Regions from separate parts of the Homo sapiens genome. Here regions 1 and 3 are each linked to region 2. Evidence: fine-mapped expression QTL. A gene starts in region 2. Each other region holds a variant in brackets. All regions are shown on one strand. Distances are from middle to middle.

Evidence for each region.
Region 1: its variant is fine-mapped to the expression of SEMA4B in whole blood (INTERVAL, PIP above 0.99).
Region 3: its variant is fine-mapped to the expression of SEMA4B in whole blood (INTERVAL, PIP above 0.99).

The regions. Positions count from the first base shown.
Region 1 is chr15:90,163,617-90,171,794 of GRCh38, reverse strand. It overlaps the pseudogene RN7SL346P. Among named protein-coding and RNA genes, the nearest start is that of SEMA4B, 34 kb to the left of the region's middle. RefSeq lists a silencer at 7,833-7,988. The variant A/T (reference allele first, on the strand shown) is at 3,472.
Region 2 is chr15:90,197,174-90,205,351 of GRCh38, reverse strand. It overlaps SEMA4B (semaphorin 4B), which reads right to left and starts at 4,022. Exons shown (of 14, transcript NM_198925.4): 1 at 3,617-4,022. The coding sequence starts at 3,773. RefSeq lists a silencer at 3,571-4,330 and an enhancer at 3,503-4,474.
Region 3 is chr15:90,247,905-90,256,082 of GRCh38, reverse strand. It overlaps TTLL13 (tubulin tyrosine ligase like 13), which reads right to left and starts at 6,527. Exons shown (of 15, transcript NM_001396017.1): 1 at 6,275-6,527; 2 at 5,196-5,463; 3 at 4,489-4,529; 4 at 2,716-2,834; 5 at 198-328. The coding sequence starts at 5,452. It also overlaps a transcript of CIB1 not described here. The variant C/T (reference allele first, on the strand shown) is at 4,177.

The DNA of each region.
Region 1 (8,178 bases), 34 kb after region 2:
GAAGACTTGTCCTTTTTTCTTTCTTTTCTTCTTCTTCTTTTTTTTTTTTTTTTTGACAAAGGGTTTGGCTCTGTTGTCCAAGCTAGAGTACCATGGTGTGATCATGGCTCATTGCTCACTGCAGCCTCAACTTCCTGGGCTCAAGTGATCCTCCCACCTCAGTCTCCTGAGTAGCTGGGACTATAGGTGTGTGTCACCAGGCCTGGATAATTTATTTTGTTTATTTATTTTTCTTTCTGAAGATTCCAGAAGTATAATTTTTTATTTTTTGTAGAGACAGGGGTCTCTCCATGTGGCCCAGGTTAGTCTCCAATTCTTGCCCTGAAGCTATCCTCCCGCCTTGGCCTCCCACAGTGCTGGGATTCCAGGTATAAGGCACCGGTCCTGGCCAGTCCTTCTTTACCTGGAAAGCTGCTCTTTTCAACACAACACTCAGCCTTGGGAAACCCGAGGGTGTAGGAAGGAGAGCCCAGATAGGATGAAGGGGTACTGGTCCATGGACAGAGAGCAGGGTTGAGCAGGGGTTTTTTTTGTTTTGTTTTTGTTTTTTGTACCTGACTCACTCCTCCATGTGCCCAGGCATTAAGACGCCATTAAGGCGCAGTGGCTCACACCTTAATCCCAGCACTTTGGGAGGCTGTGGCAGGCAGATCACGAGGTCAGGAGATCAAGACCATCCTGGCCAACATGGTGAAACCCTGTCTCTCAGGAGAATCGCTTGAACCTGGGAGGTGGAGGTTGCAGTGAGCCGAGATCGTGCCATTGCACTCTAGCCTGAGTGACAGAGAGAGACTCTGTCTCAAAAAAAAAAAAAAGAAAGAAACCCTGTCTCTACTAAAACTACAAAAATTAGCTGGGCGTGGTGGCACATGCCTGTAGTCCCAGCTACTCAGGAGGCTGATGCAGGAGAATTGCTTGAACCCGGGAGGCCGAGATCACGCCCACTGCACTCCAGCCTGGAGACAGAGCAAGACTGTCTCAAGAAAACAAAACAAAACAAAAAAAGATAAGACCTGGCCAGTAAGATGTCCACGTCCCTTTCTCCTACCCCACATCACAACAAGGGCTACGGGATACGAGAGAAACTGGTCCAGATATTGACCTAGAAAACTCTGATGGATGGATTTTTTGTTGTTGCATGTGTTTTTGCATATCCTCCTTCCAGCCCTCTAAACAGTCACTTTCAAAAACTCTTCATTTCCAAGTTAGACATCACTATTACAACTTCTGTAAGCGGCTGTAGTTTTAGTAGAGACGGGGTTTCACCGTGTTAGCCAGGATGGTCTCGATCTCCTGACCTCGTGATCCACCTGCCTCGGCCTCCCAAAGTGCTGGGATTACAGGCGTGAGCCACCGCGCCCGGCCGACAGGGTTTTACTATGTCGCCCAGCCATGGTCATGGCTCACTGCAGCCTTGACCGCCTGTGGTCAATGGACCCTCCCACCTCAGTCTCCCTAGTAGCTGGGACTACTGGCATGCACCCATGCCTGGCTAATATCTTCTTCTTCTTCTTCTTCTTCTTTTTTTTTTTTTTTTTGAGACAGAGTCTTCCTCTGTCACCCAGGCTGGAGTGCAGTGGTGTGATCTCGACTCACTGCAACCTCCACCTCCCAAGTTCAGGCGATTCTTGTGCCTCAGCCTCCCAAGTAGCGAGGACTACAGGTGCATGCCACCACACCCGGCTAATGTTTGCATTTTTATTTAATTAATTAATTTATTTTTTGAGACGGAGTTTCGCTCTCATTGCCCAGGCTGGAGTGCAATGGCATGATCTCAGCTCTCTGCAACCTCCATCTCCCGGGTTCAAGTGATTCTCCTGCCTCAGCCTCCCATGCAGCTGGGATTACAGGCATGTGCCACCATGCCCAGCTAATTTTTGTATTTTTAGTAGAGACAGGGTTTCACCATGTTAGTTAGGCTGGTCTCGAACTCTTGACCTCAGGTGATCCACCCGCCCCGGCCTCCCAAAGTGCTGGGATTACATGCATGAGCCACTGTACCCAGCTATTTTTCTATTTTTTTTTTTTAAATAGAGTTGGGGGTCTCACTATGTTGCCTAGGCTGGTATATTTTTATTTTATTTTATTTTTTATGAGACTAAGTCTTGCTCTGTTGCCCAAGCTAGACTGCAGTGGCAAAATCTTGGCTCAGTGCAACCTCCATTTCCCAGGTTTAAGTGATTCTCATGCCTCAGCCTCCTGAATAGCTGGAATTACAGGTGCTCACCACCATGCCCGGCTAATTTTTGTATTTTTAGTAGAGATGGGGTTTCACCATATCGGCCAGGCTGGTCTCAAACTCCTGACCTCAGGTGATCCACCCACCTTGGCCTCCCGAAGTGCTAGGATTAGAGGCATAAGCCACTGTGCCCAGCCAGATATATTTTAAATTTATTGTAAACTATTAATGTATGTCAAAACTATATACAGGCAAACTTCGTTTATATTGCTCTTTGAAGATATCACGTTTCGTAGATACTGCATTTTTTTATGAATTGAAGGTTTGTGGCAAGGTCAAGCAAGTCTATGAGCACAGCTTCTCCAACAGCATGTGCTCACTTAGTGTCTGTGTCACATCTTGCTGATTCTTTCAACGTTTCAAACTTTTTCATTATTAATATATCTGTTATGGTGATCTGTGATTGGTGATCTTTGATGTTACTATTTAATTGTTTTGGGGTACCATGAACCGGGCCCATACAAGATGGCAAACTTAATTGATAAACTTTTTTTCTTTTTTTTCTTTTTGAGGCAGAGTTTCACTTGCTCAGGCTGGAGCTCAGTGGTGTGATCTTGGCTCACCGCAATCTCTGCCTCTGGGGTTCAAGCGATTCTCCTGCCTCAGCCTCCGGAGTAGCTTGGATTACAGGAGTGCGCCACCACGCCCGGGTAATTTTTGTGTTATTAGTAGAGATGGGGTTTTACCATATTGGCCAGGCGGGTCTCGAACTCCTGACCTCAGGTGATCCACCCGCCTCGGCCTCCCAAAGTGCTGGGATTACAGGTGTGAGCCACTGTGCTCAGCCACAATTGATAAACGTTTTGCTTGTTCTGGCTGCTCCATCAAACGGCCACCAACGGGTCATTCTCCCTCCCTTCTGTCTCCCTCTTCTGGAGCCTCCCTATTCCCTGAGACACAAAGATGTTGCAATTAGGCCAATTAATAACCCTATGATGGCCTCTAAGTCCTCTGTTCACACAAAAGCAAGAGTTCCACATCTCTAGGTACAAAGGATTAAGCTTAGTGAGGAAGGCATGTTGAAAGCCAAAACAGGCTGAAAAACTAGTCTTCTTGAGCCAATTAGCCAAGTTTAAAAGACAAAGGAAAATTAAAGGCACTATGACAGTGAACACACAAACAGGAAGTACGCAAAACAGGCTGGGCGTGGTGGCTTGCACTTATAATCCCAGCAATTGTGGTGCCCAGGCAGGCAGATTGCTTGAGCCCAGGAGTTCGAGACCAGCCTGGCC[A/T]ACATGGGCAAACCCAGTCTCTACAAGACATATAAAAGTTAGCAAGGTATGGTGGTGCACGCCTGTGGTCCCAGCTACTTGGGAGGCTGAGGTAGGAGGATCGCTTGAGCCTAGGAGGTCAAGGCTGCAGTGAGCCATGACTGTGCCACTGCACTCCCATCTGGGTGACAGAGTGGAACCCTGTCTCAAAAAAATTTTTAAATTAAAAAAAAAAATTAAAAAGATATATCCTTTTTTTTGTTTTCAGACAGAGTCTGGCTCTATCACCCAGGCTGGAGTGCAATGGCATGATCTTGGCTGACTGCAACCTCCGCCTCCTGGGTTCAAGCGATTCTCCTGCCCCAGCCTCCCAAGTAGCTGGGATTATAGGCACCCGCCACTATGCCTGGCTAATTTCTGTGGTATCTGCATATTTTTTAGAGATAATATGATGGCTTACTTAATAGACTACAGGATAGTATGAACATAACTTTTATATGCACTGGGAAACCAAAAAAAATTCATGTGACTTGCTTTACTGCAGTGGTCTGGAACTGAACCTGCAGTATTTCCAAGGTATGCCTATATATCAAAAAGGCCTGGAGGGATTCAGCAGCAACATGTTAACTCCCCTCTGGGAAGGAGGGTGGTTTGGGATGGGGTGGTAGACATTACCAAGGTGAATCAATATTTCCAGCTCTCTTCCTGTGTCCAGGGGAAGGTTATACTTTCACACTGTCTTGAAGTTAGGTGTATCCTTGTGATTTGCTTGTGAAATGTGAGGAAAAGTGTCAAGTATCCCTTCCAGGGGAGGCATTTGAGATCCTGTGTTGGTTCTCATGCTTTCTTCCTCTATAATGGTGAACTGTGAAGTATCACGTTGGGATGGTGGCATCATATGTTGGTGGCACTGTGACTATGGTGCGGACTACAATGAGCTGAATCTCTGTGTCCATGTTAGGAATAAAGCATGGGCAAGAAAAAAATCTTTGTTGTTTTAAGCCATTGACATTTTTAGAGATGTTTGTTACCACAGCATAGCCTAGCCTGTCCTGACTGATGCAAGGGGTGATGAGAGAGTTTCGTGTCTTCTGCTAGCCTTTTCTGTATTTTTATCCTTTTACAATGAGAAAATGCCATTTATAATTTTTAAAAATAAAAATAAGATGCCTGTCATGGTGGCTCATACCTGTAACCCCAGCACTTTGGGAGGCTGAGGCGGGAGGATCTCTTGATCCCAGCAGTTTGAGAACAGCCTAGGCAACATGGTGAAACCCCAAAAATTAGCTGTGCGTGGTAGCATGAGCCTGTAGTCCCAGCTACTTGGTAGGCTGAGGTGGGAGAATCACCTGAGCCTGGGAGGTCGACGCTGCAGTGAGCCGAGATTGTGCCACTGTATTCCAGCCTGGGTGACAGAGTGAGCAAAATAATTTAAAAAATAAGAATAATTGACATGCACACAAATAGGAGCATAATATATACACTGCTATCCAATGTTCCTCTTATTCTTAAAACTGACCTTACGTTTTTGTTTTTGGTTTTTGGGTTTTTTTAGGGACTGGATCTCACTCTGTCACTCAGGCTGGAGTGCAGTGGTGTGATCATAGCTCACTGCAGCCTGGAACCCCTGGGCTCAATGATCCTCCTGCCTCGGCCTCCCAAAGTGTTAGGATTACAGGTGTGAGCCACCGTGCCCGGCCAAACTGACCCTTTCTATGTCAACTTACATAGCTCTACCTCGTTCTTTTAAATAGCTGCATGGTAATCTGTTCTCTGGATACACTACAATGTATTTTATACAAACACACACATTTTTTTAGAGACAGAGTCTTGCTAAGTTGCGCAGTCTGGAGTGCAGTGGCTATTCACAGAACCATCCTGCTACTGATCAGCACCAGAGTTCTGACCTGCTCTGTTTCGGACTTGGGCTGGTTCATCTCTCCTTAGACAACCTGGTGGTCCCCCAGCTCCCAGTAGGTCGCCATATTGATGCCCAACTTAGTGTGGACACACTATAAGCATAGAGCACTACAGCCCAGAACTTCTGGACTCAAGTGATCCTTCCACCTCAACCTCCTGAGTAGCTGATTACAAGGTGCCCACCACCACAATGTATCATAATGGATCACTATTGACAGACGTATAGGTTATTCACATATAGATTATTCACATCCGGTTATTCACAAAACAAATGCTCTAAATCACAGCTAGACTACAGCTGACTATTGCAAAATTTATGGGAGAGTGCTGATATTTATTTTCCCTCTTTTGTTTCATTCTGGCAGTTTACAGCCTGATCTTAGCACTCAGGTAGGGCTGTGCAAACTTCCTGTGGATGGATGACTAAGCCAGGCATGCTTGCACCCTTTCCAGGATATACGGATGAGGAGGCTGGTAAGTGCCTGCAGGGGTGCATGCGTGAAGGCTTGGGGGCGGGCCAGAAGAGCAGGGCCGGGAAGCACGTACACATTGCAGCTCTGGGCTGACTGACCCTGACTCATGAGTTCAGGCAGAGAAGTTAACGGCCTGGAAACTCCAGAGCGCTGAACGAGGTCTGACTCACTGACAATTATCCAGAAACGAGTAATATCACTTCTCGGTTTTCCTCCAGAGCCACCACACAATCTTTGGGAAGGGCCTGTGACATGAATCATTAAGATCCTGAGAAAGATGAGAGTTGTTCAAAGAGACTGCCAAGAGGTTTATAATTTCTGTGTCATTCATTGGAAGATGTCTACTTAGTCCTCATTACCTTCATATTTTGAATGCCCCCCAAGTAAAGGGTCCATTCATGGGTGACACAGATTCCACCTGCATCCCTAGAGGGATCTGACTGAAAACATGAGACACATGTATCAGGACTTCTTCCCATTCTTTTATTTCTATTCAGTGGTCTTCCTTCCTTCCTATTTCATAAGATAGGGTCTCACTGTGTTGCCCAGGCTGGAGTGTGGTGGCTATTCACATACATAATCATGGCTTACTGCAGCCTCCAGTCCCTGGCCTCAAGTGATCCTCCTGCCACAGCCTCCTGTGTTGCTGGGACTACAGGCCCATGTCACCATGCTTGGCCTATTCAGTAGCTTTTTTCAATTCTTTTTCAGAATGAAAATGGCTTTATTGGCTGGGTGCAGCGGCTTATGCCTGTAATCCAAGCATTTTGGGAGGGTGAGGCAGGTGGATTACCTGAGGTCACGAGTTCAAGACTAGCCTGATCAACATGGTGAAACCCCATTTCCACCAAAAATACAAAAAAATTAGCTGGGCTTGGTGGTGCACACCTGTAATCGCAGCTACTCGGGAGGCTGAGGCAGGAGAATCACTTGCACCCAGGAGGCAGAGGTTGCAGTGACCTGAGATCACGCCATTGCACTCTAGCCTGGGCAACGAGAGTAAAACTCCATCTCAAAAAAAAAAAAAAAAAAAAAAGCCTGATTATAAAGGAAATACTTGCCCATTATAAAATAAAACTTCAGACAAGTATATAGAAGGGAGTGAAATCACCCATAAGGTGATTCCCAGAGATGCTGCTATTAGCATTCTGGAGCACATCCTTCCAGACTTTCTGTATGTGTGTCTGCATACAACGGAGACACATATTTGCAAAGTTACCAATAAGTATAGATTTCTGCCCTCATTTGGAGGAGCTGCCCCATATTCCATCACAAGGGTGCCTCTCGTCTCCTCCCTCTCCTGCTGCAGATCTAACAGAAGGCCATGGCAAGGACTTAAAAAGCTTTCTTTTCTTTTTCTTTTTTTTTGAGACAGGGTCTGTCTCTGTTGCCCAGGCTGGAGTGCAGTGATGTTATTTTGGCTCACTGCAGCCTCAACTTCCCAGGCTCAAATCATCCTCCCACCTCAGCCTCCCGAGTAGCTGGGACTACAGCGACATACCACCATACTGCTGATCTTTGTTTGTTTTTTTTTTTGAGACAGAGTCTTGCTCTGTTGCCCAGGCTGAAGTGCAATGGCATGATCTCGGCTCACTGCAACCTTCACCTCCCAGGTTCAAGAGATTCTCCTGCCTCAGCCTCCTGAGTAGCTGGGATCACAGGTGTGTGCCACCATGCCTGGCTAATTTTTGTATTTTTGGTAGAGATGGGGTTTTGCCATGTTGCCTAGGCTGGTTCAAACTCCTGGGCTCAAGCCATCCTCCCACTTTGGCCTCTCAAAGTGCTGAGATTACAAACATGAGCCAACATGGCTGGCCTCCCGGCCGATAAGCTTTTTTTTTTTTTTTTTAAATTGAGATGGAGTCTTACTCTGTCACCCAGGCTGGAGTGCAATGACGTGATCTTGGCTCACTGCAGCCTCCACCTCCTGGGTTCAAGTGATTCTCCTGCCTCAGCCTCCCGAGTAACTGGGATTACAGGCATGTGCTACCACACCTGGCTAAGTTTTGTATTTTTAGTAGAGATGGGGTTTCACCATGTTGGCCAGGGTTGTCTTGAACTCCTGACCTCAGGTGATCCACCTGCCTCGGCCTCCCAAAGTGCTGGGATTATAGGCGTGAGCCACTGCGCCCGGCCCAGATAAGCTTGTAATGAGCCTAATAAAGGCATCTAAAGATGGCATTTTGGTTTTAACAATTTAGCCGTGAAGAACTCCATCTTCCATGCAACTGGAAGGGAATTTACATGCATATGGTCATGGGGGGAGGAACACTGTGCTTAGAGTCAGACCAGCTGAGTTCTAGAATTCCCTTTGCCATTTTCCTATGTGGGCAAG
Region 2 (8,178 bases):
CCATGTCAAGGAGGGAAGCCAGTAACCGGGCTGAGGGCTCAACAAGCGACCAGCATCAGGGCTTCCCAGGGCAGCCTTGACCCTGGCTGCCTCCTCCAGGGCCAGAGGGCAAGCAGCTGATTTGTGCCAAATGCTCCATTCTCTCTGCTCAATGGCGTTTTGTTGACTGCAGTTTGCAGGCCTGCAGATTTCTGTCCAATCTGCTTCAGAAATACTGCGTCCAGAGCTTTCCCGCCCGGCACTTCTGGGGCAGGAGGGAATTAATAACTCCCTTTAAGGCCGGATGTGGTGGCTCATGCCTGTAATCCCAGCACTTTGGGAGGCCAAGATGGGCAGATCACCTAAGGTCAGAAGTTCGAGACCAGCCTGGACAACATGGTGAAATCCCATCTCTACAAAAATACAAAAATTAGCTAAGCATGGTGGCGGGCACCTGTAGTCTCAGCTGCTCGAGAGGCTGAGGCAGGAGAATCACTTGAACTTGGGAGGTGGAGGCTGCAGTGAGCGGAGATGGCATCACTGTACTCCAGCCTGGGAGACAGAGCGAAACTCCATCTCAAAATAACAATAATAATAACTCCCATTAAGTGTCCAAATAAGGTGGCCCAAAAAGACTTTGGAGGGCCATGAGAGGAGGCGTGTTTTGTTTCTCCCCACGTGGCCAGGCTGGGAAGCACTGGGCGCCATTGTTTCTACTCAGCACCACTCCTGCTCCTGACCGAGGCTTTGGTCCTGGAGCTCTGCATGGTAGTTCCAACGCAAGAGAACCCAAATTCCACACACTTCTTTGAAGTGTTCCTTTCAGAGATTTCCAGCTGACTGTGGAGCCCCCAGTGGCTGTCCCCTCATCCTCCTCTCCCTACTGGCCACTGGGCGAGGCCACAAATCGGCTCCCTGCATCTTAAGCACCCCAGGAATGTGCTGTTCATCAACAATAATTAGGGTTCCCTATGAAGGACCCCAGATGCAGGGCAAGCTGGACGCTCCACTTCAAGGGATTTTGTTTTAAACCACAGACATAGCCCCACTGTCCCTAGGCATCTGGGTCCTTACGGGGCATGGGTGGGAATTCAGTAGAGGAGTGAGTGGCAGGAGGAAAGAGGGGTGTGTAATATCCAGTTCCATGACTCTTTCTCCTAAGATGCATGCAAGGGAGGGCACTAGGGCCCTGGGCCCGGCGTCCCATGGTCACCACGAGCCTGCCCAGGATGGGCACACTGCCAGGAACATCTAATGAGCCCCCTGGGATGAGGCAGGAAACCGCCTTAGGCCACACTCAAGGGTGAGCCTGTTCAGTTACCAGGGCATTCCCCTCTCGGACTCCCAGCCAGCCCTAGGACCTGCACGTAGGTAAGAGTAGGAGGTGGGTATGAGGGCCAGGAGGAAGCCCAGAGAGGGGGCACTCCAGGGTATAGTGGCAACTCAGTCGACTATAGATACGTGCTCACAAGTTCAGGTAGCTAGGTGCCACTACACTATTCCAGGGCTTTGGTGGGACTGGAAAAATGGGCCACTCCGGGCAGACCTAGCCCCAAGAACATAGCAGAAGGGGTCTTTTGCTCCAGGACTCTTAGGTTGGAGAGCTGAGTGTGGACTGCATTTCAGGTCCTCTCAACCCTCAGCTGGGCACCTTGGTACAATGCACAAAATGCAAGCCCACCTACGGCAGCCCTGACAGGTGAATGCTGGTGCGTGACAGAAGCCTGGGAACAGTCACGGGCTTGTAGAAGTGGACCAGGTCCTGCAGCTGCATTGGTAATAATAACCAAGTATTCTAGCTGCTCCTCGGGAAGCAGGTCCCCTCGATTCCCCTCGCTGCTCTCCAGTTTTGCCTTCTAGCTACCCTGTGATTGTCCCATCCAGTTCCAGAGTTGGACATGAAACCTACCGTCTTTTGACATGGTCCCATGAGCTGGCCCAGCTTTCCCAAGGCCATAAGTGGAGTCCATTGGAGCATCTGCCCCCATCTCACCCTGCCTTCTCCCAAAAATGAGAGGGTCTGAGGGCAAAGGGAGTTGTGGCCACAACAGAAGTAGCAAGACAGCAGGCCTGGGGCTGGTTACACCTGTTCATCCTGACTTCACAAGCTGAAGCACCCAAGGGGCTACAGTCAAACTAACACCCCAACCCTGTCCTAACCCCAGGCAGAATCACCCCAGATCTGGGCAAGATGTACAGAAGTAAACTCTGAGCTGAGTAACACTCATTCAGCGGTTCCCGTACCAGGCCCTGTCCTAACGACTTTTCAAACACGAGCTGATTTAATCCTCACTACCTTGAGGTAGGTTCTGTTATTATACCTGTTTTACAGATGAAGAAATCAAGACCCAGAAACTTTAAGTAGCCTGCTCAAGGTCACATGGTTACTAAGTGGCTGAGGTAGCATTTGAACCCAGGTCATCTGCAGTATTTCAGACAGGGGTTCAGGTAGGGTTACTTGAAGCCGCTAGGGCCCTGCCTTAATTTAAGTGCTGATTCTACTATTTCCCTTTGTAAACAGGATGCTTTTAGAGGTGGGGATGCTGTGAGGAGATGGAAGTCTGGGACAGTTTCAGTCTGTAACCTCTAATTCATACATGCTTTATTCCAAGTCATACAATATGACAACCAACAAGTTAAAGGGCTTGCGGATACATCTGTTGGGCACTTATAAACTTCATACCCGAGTAACACACCTTGCAAGGCACCTACGACTGCCTATTTTGCAGATGAGAAAGGTGGGGCACTGGGAGCAGAAGGCACTTACTTGCCCAGTGGAAGAAATGGGCTTGGGATCCAGGACCCTCTGAATCTAAAGCCCAAGTGCCCCAAGAAGAGCTGGAGAAGCAACCGGATGGAAGGGAAAAGGAGAGGGAAGGGCGGAGGGCTGAAACAGGAGGTGGCCACAGAAGCAGATGTGAGGACCAGGAAAGGAACCCAGCCAACCAGGATGCTACTCCCAGGTCACTCTGAGGAGGGGTCGCGCCCAGGACTTGGGAATGTCAGCGCCCAGAGCTGCCCCCATCCGCAGTCTGTTCGCTCCCAGGACTTGGGAATGTCAGCGCCCAGAGCTGCCCCCATCCGCAGTCTGGTCGCTCCCAGGGCCTGGAGGTCTCTCCATGCTGGGGCTTGGGGCTGCACTGGCAAGCCAGGGATGGAGGGGCGGAGAGGGAGGATCGGGCGCCTGCCCGCCCACCACAGCTCCCGGCCCTGCTGCGACTTGCTGGGAATACCAGAACCCCAGTGTTTATAGGACTGCAAGCAGTGGCCTCCCTCTACCCCGAGCCGCCCTCGGGGGCGGCACCGCGGTCGGCTCTGGTCAGCATCAAAGACAAGTAGATGGGCAGGCGGACCCCGCCGAAAGTGCATCCTCCTAAGGGAACTAGGGGGGACGACAGAGCGGGCTAGACCCCATCCCTACGCAGAAAGAAAACTGAAGAAAGGGGCCAGCGGCCCCACAGCTCCCCTCTCCTCTCCCTCCCTCCGCGCAGCGCCTTGAAAAAAGAAGGGGTCCTAATGGATCCCGTGCCTCCGACAGGTCCCCTCCTTGGTCCTTTGTCACGGCCACCTCCGCACGAGGCACGTCCCCGGCAGCCTTCCTTCCCCCGGCCCGCGTCCCCGGGTCCCCGGCACTCACCCAGAGGCAGGCTGATCCGGGGGCTGAGCGCCCAGGTCGGAGGCGGCGGCTGCAGCAGGAGCAGCAGCAGCAGGAGCAGCAGCAGCGGTGGCCGAGGCGGCAGCGCGCCCCATGGGGCGGCGAGCCAGCTCCTCAGGCCCATCGCGGTGCGCAGCATTCGGAGAGCAGGAGCGACGGTGTCCCGCGGCTCGGGCTCAGGTGGCTCGGCCGGACTCACGGGCGGCAGCTCCGCCCCGCGGTCCGCCCCCGAGTCGCCCCGGGGGCCCCCGCCTCCGGACCTGGGGGGCGGGAGGTGGGAAACAGGGTCAAGTGGGCCCTGGCAAACTCAGCCCCTCCGCGGGGCACCGCAGTCCTCCCGCCGGCGCCGGCCCCGCAGCCTCGGCTTGGGCAGAGCTCACCCGCAAGCGGCGGAGGGCGGGGCTGAAGGAGGAAGTCGGCCGTGAGCCCGGCCGGCCCGCCCCCTTCCCCCTTCCTCCTTCCCGGGCGCTGGCAGCGCGAGGGGCGGCAGCTCGGGGCGCTGCCGCAGGGGCCAAGCCCGGGATCAGTAGCCCCGGCGGCCGCCGGAGCGCTGGGACGCGGACGAAAGCCGACCCCCAGCTCCCCGCCCCCACTGCTCAGACCCTCCCACCGCCGCCCAGGCCCTGGCCCCTTCCGGCTCCTCTGGGACCCTCTGCTAGTGGCGTTGGTTTGGGGACACGCTGCGTCCCCGCTATGCGCCTAGGGAGTTAGGGGGCGGATGGTGATTAGGCCTTGGTCTCCTCCCTTTAGGCGCCCCCTCCGCTCTTGCTCCTGGCGACCCCCTTGTTCCTGCGACCAAATGAACTCGGCCGAGCTCGTGCTGACACTGGGGCTAGCAGCTTGAGAGTCCAATTTTTGCACAGGTCAATCCACTGCAAGTCATGGCTGGGCATTCACTACAAGCTCAGCACTTAGTCTAGGCACCCTGCGGGCTTGTCCGCTTAATATTCTGTCCACGCGAAGCCCTCGGGTGGGGGAAGGGCAAGATTAGCTTAAGTGGGATAATAGGATTTAATGTACTGCTGAGGAGGTAAAACCTTCACAACCTGCACGTGACCCGGCAGGGGAAGGGAACCCCTAAGACTGGAGTGGAAGCCCAGAGGCACCCACCCCTAATCCTCCTGGCTCCTAACATCTCCACGGGTGGAGTTCAGCTCTGCTGAGACCAGGGGTTTCCAACTGCAGCCTGGACCATTAGCAGATTCTGAAATCAATTTAGTGGATCCCAACAGCATTAAGAAACAAACAAAACATAGAAACTATCTAAGCAATAATCTCAAAGGATAAGTAATTTTGGGAAAGCTACTTCAACTTTTCCTAAGTGTGCACAGGATTACAGAAAAATGTAGTAGTTCCTCCTGTAGTTAAGAGTCCAAAAGAGTGAAAGCCTCTGCTAGTTATTTCCATGGCAGTAGAGACCATCGCTCCATAAATTTGCTGCAATTGCAGGAAAGCTCCTCTTCACCCCCAGCCAAAATCAGCCTCCTCAGAGCACCTCTTTTCCTCTCCTCCCGACTTTCAGGGTCTGCCACATCTGCTCCCACAACAGGGATGCTGTCAAGAGGGTGGGCACAGCACCCACATGGTCCCAGGTCTCCTTTCTTACAGCTAAGTTTCCTCATGCTGCATGATTTCTGTACCTCCATCACCTTCTGTGGACATGGTGCAGGCTAGCAGCATCCCTTTTAAAGGGGCTCCCAGAACTGGACACAGAATTCCACATGGGATATGGACAGCACCAAGCACCCACAGTGCTACTATTGCCCAGGTTTGGATGCTTACTCTAAATGGGTTCAATCCACCTACAGCCAGTGATACCCAAACCCCTATCTGCCGCCTAGTCCAGCCCTGCTCAGCCCTTAACTCCAAAAGGCCTCAACTTTTTTTTTTTTGAGACAGAGTCTTGCTCTTTTGCCCAGGCTGGAGTGCAATGGTGCAATCTCCACTCACTGCAACCTCTGCCTTCTGGGTTCAAGTGATTCTCCTGCCTCAGCCTCCCGAGTAGCTGAGATTACAGGTTTATGCCACCACACCCCGCTAATTTTTTGTATTTTTAATAGAGACAGGGTTTCACAATGTTGGCCAGGCTGGTCTTGAACTCCTGACCTCGTGATCCACCTGCCTTGGCCTCCCAAAGTGCTGGGATTTCAGGCGTGAGCCACCACACCTGACCCGGCCTCAATATTTCTACTTGGCTGTCTGAAAACCATCTCGAGCCCAACATGTCCCAAACTAAGCTCCTGATCTCTCCCCCTTCTCAAAAATGTGCTCCACCTACAGCCTTCCCCATTTCATTTAATGGCAATTCCATCTTTAAATTGCTCAGGCCAAAACCCTCAGCTCCTCTCATTATCTCACTCCTCACATCCAGTCCATTAGAAAATCTATAATCTGACCACTTCCCAGCTCCCTAGGGCCCAGGCACCACCCTCTTTCTCCTGGTTACTGCAAGGGCCTCCTAACTGTTCTCCCCGTTTCCTCCTTGGTTCCCCTACAATCTATTCTCAACACAGCAGCTGGAGTGAGTCTTTAAAACACAAGCCAGGACAGGGGTGGTGGCTCACGCCTGTAATCCCAGCACTTTGGTGGGCCGAGGCGGGCAGATCACTTGAGGTCAGGAGTTCAAGACCAGCCTGGCCAACATGGTGAATCCCCATCTCTACTAAGAACACAAAAATTAGCTGGGCATGGTGGTGTGTGCCTGTAATCCCAGCTACTCGGGAGGCTGAGGCAGGAGAATTGCTTGAACCGGGGCCTGGGAGGCGGAGGTTGCAGTGAGCTGAGATTGTGCTACTGCACTCCAGCCTGGGCTACAGAGCAAGACTCCATCTTAAACAAAACAACACACAACACAAGCCAGATCAGGGCTTTCCTCTGCTCAAAACCCTCCAAGGGTTCCCCCATCTCATTCACAATGACCTTACTTGGAGTGGTCTGCAAAGCCCTCCATGTCATCCTCACCACCAGTACCACTGCATCCTCTACTACTTTTCCCCTCACTCATCCACACCAGGTACATATATAGTAGCCCGAACCAGCAGGGCCTTTGACCTGGCTGCTCCCTCACCTGGCACACTCTCCCCCTAGATAACCACAGGACTGAGTCCCTTGCTTCCTTTTGCTCATTTATCACCTTGAAGAATCTGAACTTCCTCCTAATATGCCCCTTATCTCCTTAAAAATACCTTGAGATATTTTTTCAGAGCACTCATCACTGAATAACATACGATATATTAGTTATGGTTTTTCTTTATTGTCTGACATCCCATCTCCCCCAGAATGCTGACTGAGAGGGCAGAGATTTTTGCTTATTTGGTTTGTTAAGTAATGTATCTCAAGCCTCTAGAATAGTGCTTGGCACATGGTAAGCAGGACTTCAGTAAGTACTGGATGAATGAATGAATGAATGCAACTTGAGTCACAGAATACTGCTGACTCATGTCAGCTGACAACCAGAACTATTTTTTTTATATCAACTTTGGTCCAATAAAGAGTTTTACCAGCCAGGCGCGGTGGCTCACGCCTGTAATCCCAGCACTTTAGGAGGCCGAGGCAGGCGGATCACGAGGTCAGGAGATCGAGACCATGGTGAAACCCCGTCTCTAATAAAAATACAAAAAAAAATTAGCCGGGCACAGTGGTGGGTGCCTGTAGTCCCAGCTACTCAGGAGGCTGAGGCAGGAGAATGGCGCGAACCCGGGAGGTGGAGCTTGCAGTGAGCCGAGATCACGCCACTGCACTCCAGCCTGGGCCACAGAGCGAGACTCCATCTCAAAAAAAAAAAAAATTAATTAATTAATTAATAATAAAATAAATAAATCTAGTGGTTCTGGCTCAGATGTCATCCCACTGAAGTCATGTTGAAAACTGATTCTATTATCATACATTTGGCTTCCCCTTCCAGTATGGGGTCATCTGTAAACATGATAACCATTCCTTATGCCTTTATTCAAGCTATTGATAAAAATATTGGGTGAGCAGGGCCGGGCATGGTGGCTCACGCCTGTAATCCCAGCACTTTGGGAGGCCGAGGTGCGCGGATCATGAGGTCAGGAGCTCGAGACCATCCTGGCTAACACAGTAAAACCCCATCTCTACTAAAAATACAAAAAATTAGCCGGGCGTGGTGGCGGGCGCCTGTAGTCCCAGCTACTCGGGAGGCTGAGGCAGGAGAATGGCGTGAACCCGGGAGGCGGAGCTTGCAGTGAGCCGAGATCGCGCCACTGCACTCCAGCCTGGGGGACAGAGCGAGACTCCGTCCCAAAAAAACAAAAATTGGGTGAGCAGATCTAGCACCTAAATCTTCGTTTACTTTTTTCTTTTTTATTGAGAGAGGGTCTCACTCTGTCACCCAGGCTGGAGTACAGTGGCAAGATCTCAGCTCACTACAACCTCCACCTCTCAGGCTCAAGCAATCCTTCCACCTGAGCCTCCTGAGTAGCTGGGACTACAGGCATGCACCACCACACTCGGATAATTTTTGTAATTTTTTTGTAGAGAAAGGGGTTTCACCACGTTGCCCAGGCTGGTCTCAAACTCCTGGA
Region 3 (8,178 bases), 51 kb before region 2:
GCATGGAGCTCTTCCTGCTATCTAGTCCATGCTCTTCCTGGAGCACTCAGTCTCAGACCCTCTTTTCTTTGACCAGCTGAAACTTTCTCATTCCACTTCCATCCCTCTGAGACATTCCTAGGTCACAAGACCAGAGCTCTGAGAGCGACCCTTTTCCTCCCCCTGGTATCTCAGCATGGGAAGCCAGACCCACTCACTCTGCGGGGAGGCACCAGGTGCGGGGGAAGATGTTGTACTCAGAGGGATAGAGTTTGTACATGCGGTTGAGGTTCCGAGCCAGCAGATCTTTGCGGCAGATTTCTGTCATGCCAGGGAAGTGGTTGATTTTCTGAAACACAGCCAGTTAGTATGAGCCCCCAGAGTAAGTGGCATTTCCTAGCACCTGGGCATCCCAGGAAGCAGTGGAGGAGGATTGGGAAGGTTAAGGGAGAAGTCACAGTGGAGGTAAGCACTGCACCAAGGACCCCAAGGGCAAACATAGGAAGGTTCCTTAAGGCAGGTGAGAAAACCCTCTGTGACTCCTACCCAACACACACATCCACACTGAGCTCAGCAAATGAGGGGCAGTGAGAAGGAATGTAACTAGCCAAGACTGTGGCTTCCACAGTCCACCTTCTAACACCCCTCAGACCACCAGGCCTAGTCCTCTAACAATAACTAATGCATGATAGCACAAAGCAGACAATGAGACGAAAGCATTCCCCAAAAGACACAAAAGATAAAAGGAAACTAAGAACCAGCCCCAAGGAATGTGATGCCATGGCACCCACTGAGGGCATGGCATCACCCTGGTGCCTGCCAGAAACCCCTGGCTGCTCTGTCCTGCTGGATGGGTGGCAGCATCCGGGATGCCACCAAGTAAAGAACAAATAATGAGATAGGATGTACCCACCAGACACTTCCTTCAGGTAATTCCAGAGACCCAGGAGGAGAATCTTTCCGTTGGAAAAGAATACCCTGGGGATGGTCTTTCCTGTCTGCACAGGGGGACAGCCACAAAGAGTATGCTAAGTGCTCTCCACTGGGTTTCCCCATCACTGGCCGCACTCACTGTATGAACTTAGTATTTCTGACCCTCCATGTCCTAACCAAGGGATATCTGCTGCTCAGGGCTGTTCTTGAGGATTTAATGGGGTAATACTATAAAAGCACTTAACACGGAGTCTGTTGTACAGTAAGCCCTCAGTAAATGCTGCTGATTATTGTTATCCTTATCCTTTTTTTTTCCCCCTTCCCTGAGACAGGGTCTCCCTCTGTCGCCCAGGCTGGAGTGCAGTGGTGTGATCTCAGCTCACTGCGGCCTCTGCCTCCCAGGCTCAAGAGATCCTCCTGCCTCAGCCTCCCAAGTGGCTGGGACTAAAGCATGCACCACTACGCCTGGCTAATATTTTTTTATTTTTGTATTTTTGGTAGAGATGGGGTTTTGCCTGTTGCCCAGGCTGGTCTCAAAGTCCTGAGTTCAAGCAATCTGCCCACCTTGGCTTCCCAAAGGGATTTCAGGCACGAGAGCCACCGTCCACCGTGCCCAGCCTGCATTCCTCATTTTACAAATGCCCCTCCTTTGGAGCGTCCTTTTTTTTTTTTTTTTTTTAGATGGAGTCTCACTCTGTCACCCAGGCTGGAGTGCAATGACACAATCTTGGCTCACTGCAACCTCCGCCTCCTGGGTTCAAGTGATTCTCCTGCCTCAGCCTCCTAAATAGCTGGGATTACAAGTGTGCGCCACCATGCCTGGTTAATTTTTGTATTTTTAGTAGAGATGGGGTTTTACCCTGTTGGTCAGGCTGGTCTTGAACTCCTGACCTCATGATCCGCCCGCCTCGGCCTCCCAAAGAGTTGGGATTACAGGCGTGAGCCACTGTGCCCAGCCTTTTTTTTTTAAAAAAAAAAAAAACAGGGTCTCACTCTGTCACACAGGCTGGAGTGTAGTGGCATGATCTCTGCTCACTGCAACCTCCACCTCCTGGGTTCAAGTGAACTCCTGACCTGAATTGATCCACCTGCCTTGGCCTCCCAAAGTGGTGGGATTACAGGTGTGAGCCACCACACCCAACCTCCTCTGGAGCTTCTTGAGAACTTCTAGCACTTGCTTTCTCTCTTGGGCACCTCTCCCAAGACTAGTTGTGGGACAGGTTTTAATTTCCTCAACTTCCTGCCTGGCTTCCCCAAAGAATAAGCCTGCAGACTCTTTTAAATTATTTTATTGCTGATCACCACAAACGCCCAATTAGAGGATAATAAAAATGTCACAAGGCAGTTCTATTCTTGTGGACCCCGGTGGATCATTCCTGAATTTCTTGCCACCAGGCAGGACCCCGCAGTCTCCTAATGGATGTGGAATGCTAAACTAAGTTGCTTAGAAGGCTGGATCATTCAACTGGCCCTGCTGTTAGCTCTGAAGCTGCCTCCCAGTATTCTCCCTAAGATGTGCTCACCCACCCTGGAGAGGGCCAGCTACACACAGATGCCACCAAGCAAAGTGCAAATCATGAGATAGGATGTGCCCACCAGAAACTTCCTTTGGGTAATTCCAGAAACCCACAATCTCCAAGAGGAGATCTTTCCATTGGAAAAGAAGACCCTGGGGGTGGTCTTTCTTGTCTGCACAAGGGGACAGCCACAAAGAGTAGCAGTCTTGGGTGCCTGGGCAAGGAGGTGGGAATAGTCATTCTGGGGCCCTAGCCCCTGTCGGCTCTCAGGTCAGGAGATGGGTACCTGAAACCTCTTCATGTCCATGACTCGTTCCAGTGAGACAGCGCAGTCTGTCCAGTACAGAGTCCACTCTTCATCCTCCCCCACCTCCTTCAGGCCACACATTTGGGCTGCCCGACGCACTGCAGAGACAGGGAGATCAGTAGTGCCAGCATGGACACCAGCAACAAGCCCTGGAACTGTGTAGCTGGGTCAGGTAAGGTATACACCTGACCCGAGGGCAGGTTGAAGAGGGAGGTAGTTCTTGCCTCAGCCCTGTACTTTAGTTACCACATGACAATTTCAAGTTCTTAGGGGCTGTCAGGGCCCTTCCAAAATACCTAGCAGAGAAAACTAGAACCTGGTTTTTTGTTTGTTTGTTTGTTTGTTTTTTAGAGACGGAGTTTCGCCCTTGTGCTGGAGTGCAGTGGCACGGTCTTGGCTCACTGCAACCTCCGCCTCCCAGGTTCAAGAGATTCTCGTGCCTCAGCGTCCCCAATAGCTGGGACTACAGGCGCCCACCACCACACCTGGGTAATTTTTGTATTTTTAGTAGAGACGGGGTTTTACCATGTTGGCCAGTCTGGTCTCGAACTCCTGACCTCAGGAGATTCGCCTGCCTTGGCCTCCCAAAGTGTTGGGATTACAGGCATGAGCCACCGTGCCCAGCTGCTCCTGTCAGTCTTATCTCTCAATCAGGGATGTTTATGGCTTGGAGAGCTGCCTATAGGTGGGGTCACACTGGCACTTCACACTCCATACTTGTGTGGTTCCTTATAAAGATGCCAGAGGGAATATTAGGGGAAGGACCTAGCTGGAGATTGTTTTTTTTCTTAATCGTTGAAGTCCCTTCAAATCTTCCTTGAAAAAACTGTTTTAAGCTTGTCTCATCTCTGGTAAAATCTGGGAAGGGTCTGGCATGGTGGCTCCTGCCTGTTATCCTAGGCCTTTGAGAAGCTGAAGTGGGAGGATCACTTGAGCCCAGGAGTTCAAGACCAGCCTGGGCAACATAGCAAGACTCTGTCTCTACAAAACATTTAAGAATTAGCTGGGCAGGCTGGGCATGGTGGCTCATGCCTGTAATCCCAGCACTTTGGGAGGCTGAGGTGGGTGGATCACCTGAGGTCAGGAGTTCAAGACCAGCCTGGCCAACATGGAGAAACTCTGTCTACTAAAAGTACAAAATTAGCCAGATGTGGTGGCACATGCCTGTAATCCCAGCTATTTGGGAGGCTGAGGCAGGAGAATCGCTTGAACCTGGGTGGTGGAGGTTGCAGTGAGTCGAGATCACGCCATTGCATTCCAGCCTGGGCAACAAGAGCAAAACTCGGTCTCAAAAAAAAAAAAAGAATTAGGTGAGCATAGTGGTGCAGGCCTGTAGTCCCAGCTACTGGGAAGCTCAGATAGGAAGACGGCTTGAGCTCGGGAGTTCAAGGCTGCATTAAGCTATGATTGCAATACTGCACTCCAGCCTGGATGACAAAG[C/T]GAGACTCTGTCTCAAAAATAAATAAATAAAATCTGGGAAGGGTGGGGCAGTAGTGGCTCTTGGACTTTTTTTTTTTTTTTTCTTGTTTACTGTGAGGATACCCTCCCTAACACTGAGACTACCTGGAATGGCAATGTCTCAGCTTCCAGTGTCTGAGGCAGAGGACACCTAGGAAGCTCAGTACAGGTTAGAGGCAAGCCCGCCAGGCCCCAGGGGCTGGAAGCCTGATCGGGGGTCCATTCCAGAGGAAGAACAGCAGCTGTAGGCACCATGTTATGCACCACAGTGTGAGCGACGGGCTGGGTGCTTACCACTCTCATACTTGCAGTTGGTCAGGTTGATGGCCAGTGATCTGGAATGGAGGAATAGCATAAATCAGGAAGAGTGGGAGGGAAGGACAGGTACTCAGATGAAAAGACATCCAACAAATTCACAACACAATTCCTTTTCTCTAGAAGCCACTTAAAAGACAGACCAGGATGGGCTGGGCGCGGTGGCTCATGCCTGTAATCCCAGCACTTTGGGAGGCCGAGGCGGGTGGATCACAAGGTCAGGAGATAGAGACCATCCTGGCTAACACAATGAAACCCTGTCTCTACTAAAAATACAAAAAAAAAAAAAAAAATTTGCCATGCGTGGTGGCAGGTGCCTGTAGTCCCAGCTACTCGGGAGGCTGAGGCAGGAGAATGGCCTGAACCCGGGAGGCGGAGCTTGCCGTGAGCCGAGATCACGCCACTGTACTCCAGCCTGGGCGACAGAGCGAGACTCTGTCTCAAAAAAAAAAAAAAAAAGACAGACCAGGATGACATAAACAGGCTGGGATTCCAAAATGAGCCAGCCTAAATGGTTCTGAATTTTGTTTCTGTTGTATCAAAGGGTTAATGACACTCCAGCATTTCCTGTCCTCTTTTGTAGGCTAAAGGGAAGATCTGAGATCCCAGCTCCTCCAGATGTTGAAGGGAGGCCAATGGGTGACTCCCTGGAGCTGGGCAGTTGAGGGGATCTAGGGAATAGTTACCTGCGTTTCCGCCTTCTCTTCCTCCTCCCAGCTTCTAAGTCGCCTGTGTCAACTGGGGCTATGACTTTCTTCGGAATTTTTGTGGCCATAATGGGTGAGGGAACCCCATTTTTTAATGCCTTATAGTCAGCTTTTAAGAGAGCCTGCTGTGAAGAGTTAGAGGGGTTGGTAACTCCCTCTTTAACACACTTCTCAGATTCCTTTTCCTCAACATAGTCTTCCTCTGATTCCATGGTCCTACAGGTACTCGGCTCCATTCTCTCAGATTCTGAGGGGTTGCGGGGTGGGAATGAAGTGTATATCAGACCTCAGACCTCCCTCAGGCCCTAGAAGGCCTGAAGGAATCCACCAGAACGACCTTCATGCTGTTATAAGGGAAAGTTGCTGCCCCTTCAGGACAAAACTGTTTCACTGAGGAATGGGATGTGTCCAGGTAGGTGGAGGTGCATGGGGGTGGAAGACACCAGTGAGATGTGGATTCCCTGATGACAAGCCCCAATCATCCAGGTTCACACTGGATCATACAACGCACAGGGGTGCCTTCAGGAGTTGGACACAGATGGTATGGGCCATGACCATGGCTCTTTTGTTCCTAATTGGGAAAGAGGATGGCTGTGAGTGCTGGGGGGACCTTCGCTTTAAAATACAGCTGAATCGGCCCAGCACGTTGGGAGGCTGAGGCGGGCAGATCACTTGAGGTCTGGAGTTGGAGAGCAGCCTGGCTAGCACGGTGAAATCCCGTCTCTCCTAAAAATACAAAAATTAGCTGGGTGTGCTGGTGCGTTGCCTGTAATCCCAGCTACTCGGGAGGCTGAGGGAGGAGAATCACTTGAACCTGGGAGGTGGAGGTTGCAGTGAGCCGAGATCACACCACTGCACTCCAGCCTGGGCGACAGAGCAAGAGTCTGTCTCTAAATAAATAAATAAATAAATAAATAAAATAAAATACAGCTGAAGACCAAAAGCCCCCTACGCTGGCCCTTTCCCTCTCCCAGGACTCATTTTCTGCACGTGTACACACTAGGGACAGGCACCCGATGGCTAAGACCCTTTGGGCTGTGACGGTGGAGACTGCCCACCCGTGGTTACGAGGAGAGCTGAGGGGCTGCTGGGTCCGCCCCTAGCCGCCTGGGGATGGACTCAGCTGGCCGCTCATGTCCCCTCTTCCCCCGGCTCCAGGTCTCCCTGGGCGTTTCTGGGCGTCCGGAACCGCCTCCTCGTTTCACAGGACTGGCTGTCCCCACGATCGCGAGGGGGAAGCTGCTCCCCCGCAGGGGTTCACTCCTAGCTCCCGGTGGCCGTGGCTGCGGCTGCCGGGGCAGCGCTTCCTCTAGCAAGCCCGTGGCCGCCGCCGTTGCCATGGACACGAGGGCAGTTCCCATTGGAGAAGCGTCCTGGGGGCGGGGCTTTCCCGCAGCCACACCCACTTGGGCGCGGGCCGAGGCTACCTTGGGTGGGGGAGACAGCGTTTGCCCTTTGGAGCTGGCCGGCCTCGACGCCAGATTCTTCCGGTGTATCATGGGACTTGCAGCCCTCCCGCTTCGAAGCCAGTTCTCGCCGCACTCCCATCTTTCCCTAAACCCCGGGCCAAGGAATTTGGCCAAGCATATAATGAGGACAAATAGCTGTTTGCCTCTCCTCAATTCTCCCTTTTTTTTTTTTTTTTTTTTTTTGAGACGGGGTCTTGCTGTGTCGCCCAGGCTGGAGTGCAGTGGAATGCACCATCATAGCTCACTGCAGCCTGGACCTCCTGGGCTCAAGCAATCCTCCTGCCTCAGCCTCCCCAGTAGCTGTGACTACAGGAGCGTGCCACCACGCCGGGCTCAATTCTTTAGTAACTCTAAGTTTAGCTAGCAAAGCCTATGCATTCAAGAGTGACAGCCATGGTAAGGCCACGTGCCTTTCAAGGCTTTGCCTCTGGTGGACTGAGACAGCTCCATTAAGGAATAACCAAACCGCCTTATCACAGTGCTCCTTCACTGTCACCTTCTCTTCCTGACATCCACCCACTTTGATTTCTGCTCACCACCTCCACCCAACTCAGCTCAACTTGTCACCCTAAAATTATACTGTGTGGCTAAATCTAGAGAACACTTAAAATGTTTCCATCCTTTTAAAAAGACATGGACTTTTTTTTTTTTTTTTTTTTTTTTTTTTTTTTTTTTTTTTGAGACAGGGTCTTGCTTTGTAGCCCAGGCTGGATTGCAGTGGTGTGATCGCAGCTCACTGCAACTTTACTTAGCTTCCCAGGCTCAAGCAATCCTCCCACTTCAGCGTCCCAAGTAGCTGGGGCTACAGGTGCGCACCACCATGCCTGGCTAATTTTTGTATTTTTTGTAGAGATGGGGTTTTGCTGTGTTGGCCAGGCTGATCTTGAACTCCTGACCTCAAGTGACCTGCCCACCTTGGCTTCCCAAAGTGGTGGGATTACAGGCATGAACCACTGAACTCGGCCTAAAAAAGGCATGGACATTCTCTAATTCATAGACTGTTTTTGTTGTTGTTAATTGTCTATAAAGATAAGCTATTTCTTTGCCCACATATTCATGTTTCATAGTTCAGGAACATAGGTTAGTGATAAACTTCTATGTAATGCAACCCAAAGAAACTGTTTATACCAAAATCACTTTGCACTTTGAAAGATACCAGCCTTCCTCATCTCCTCAAAATCTTTCATAGAATCAGCAAGGCTAGGTGGCAGGCCCTGTAGTCCCAGCTACTAGGAAGACTGAGGTGTGAGGATCTCTTGAGCATGGGAGTTAAGAGGATGCCGTGAGCTATGATTATGCCACTGCACTTCAGCTTGGGTGACAGAGTGAGAACTCGTATTTAAAAAAACAAATATCTGGCCGGGTGTGATGGCTCACGCCTGTAATCCCAGCACTTTGGGAGGCCAAGGTGGGCGGATCACCAGGTCACGAGATCAAGACCATCCTGGCTAACACGGTGAAACCCCCTCTCTACTAAAAATAAAAAAATAAAA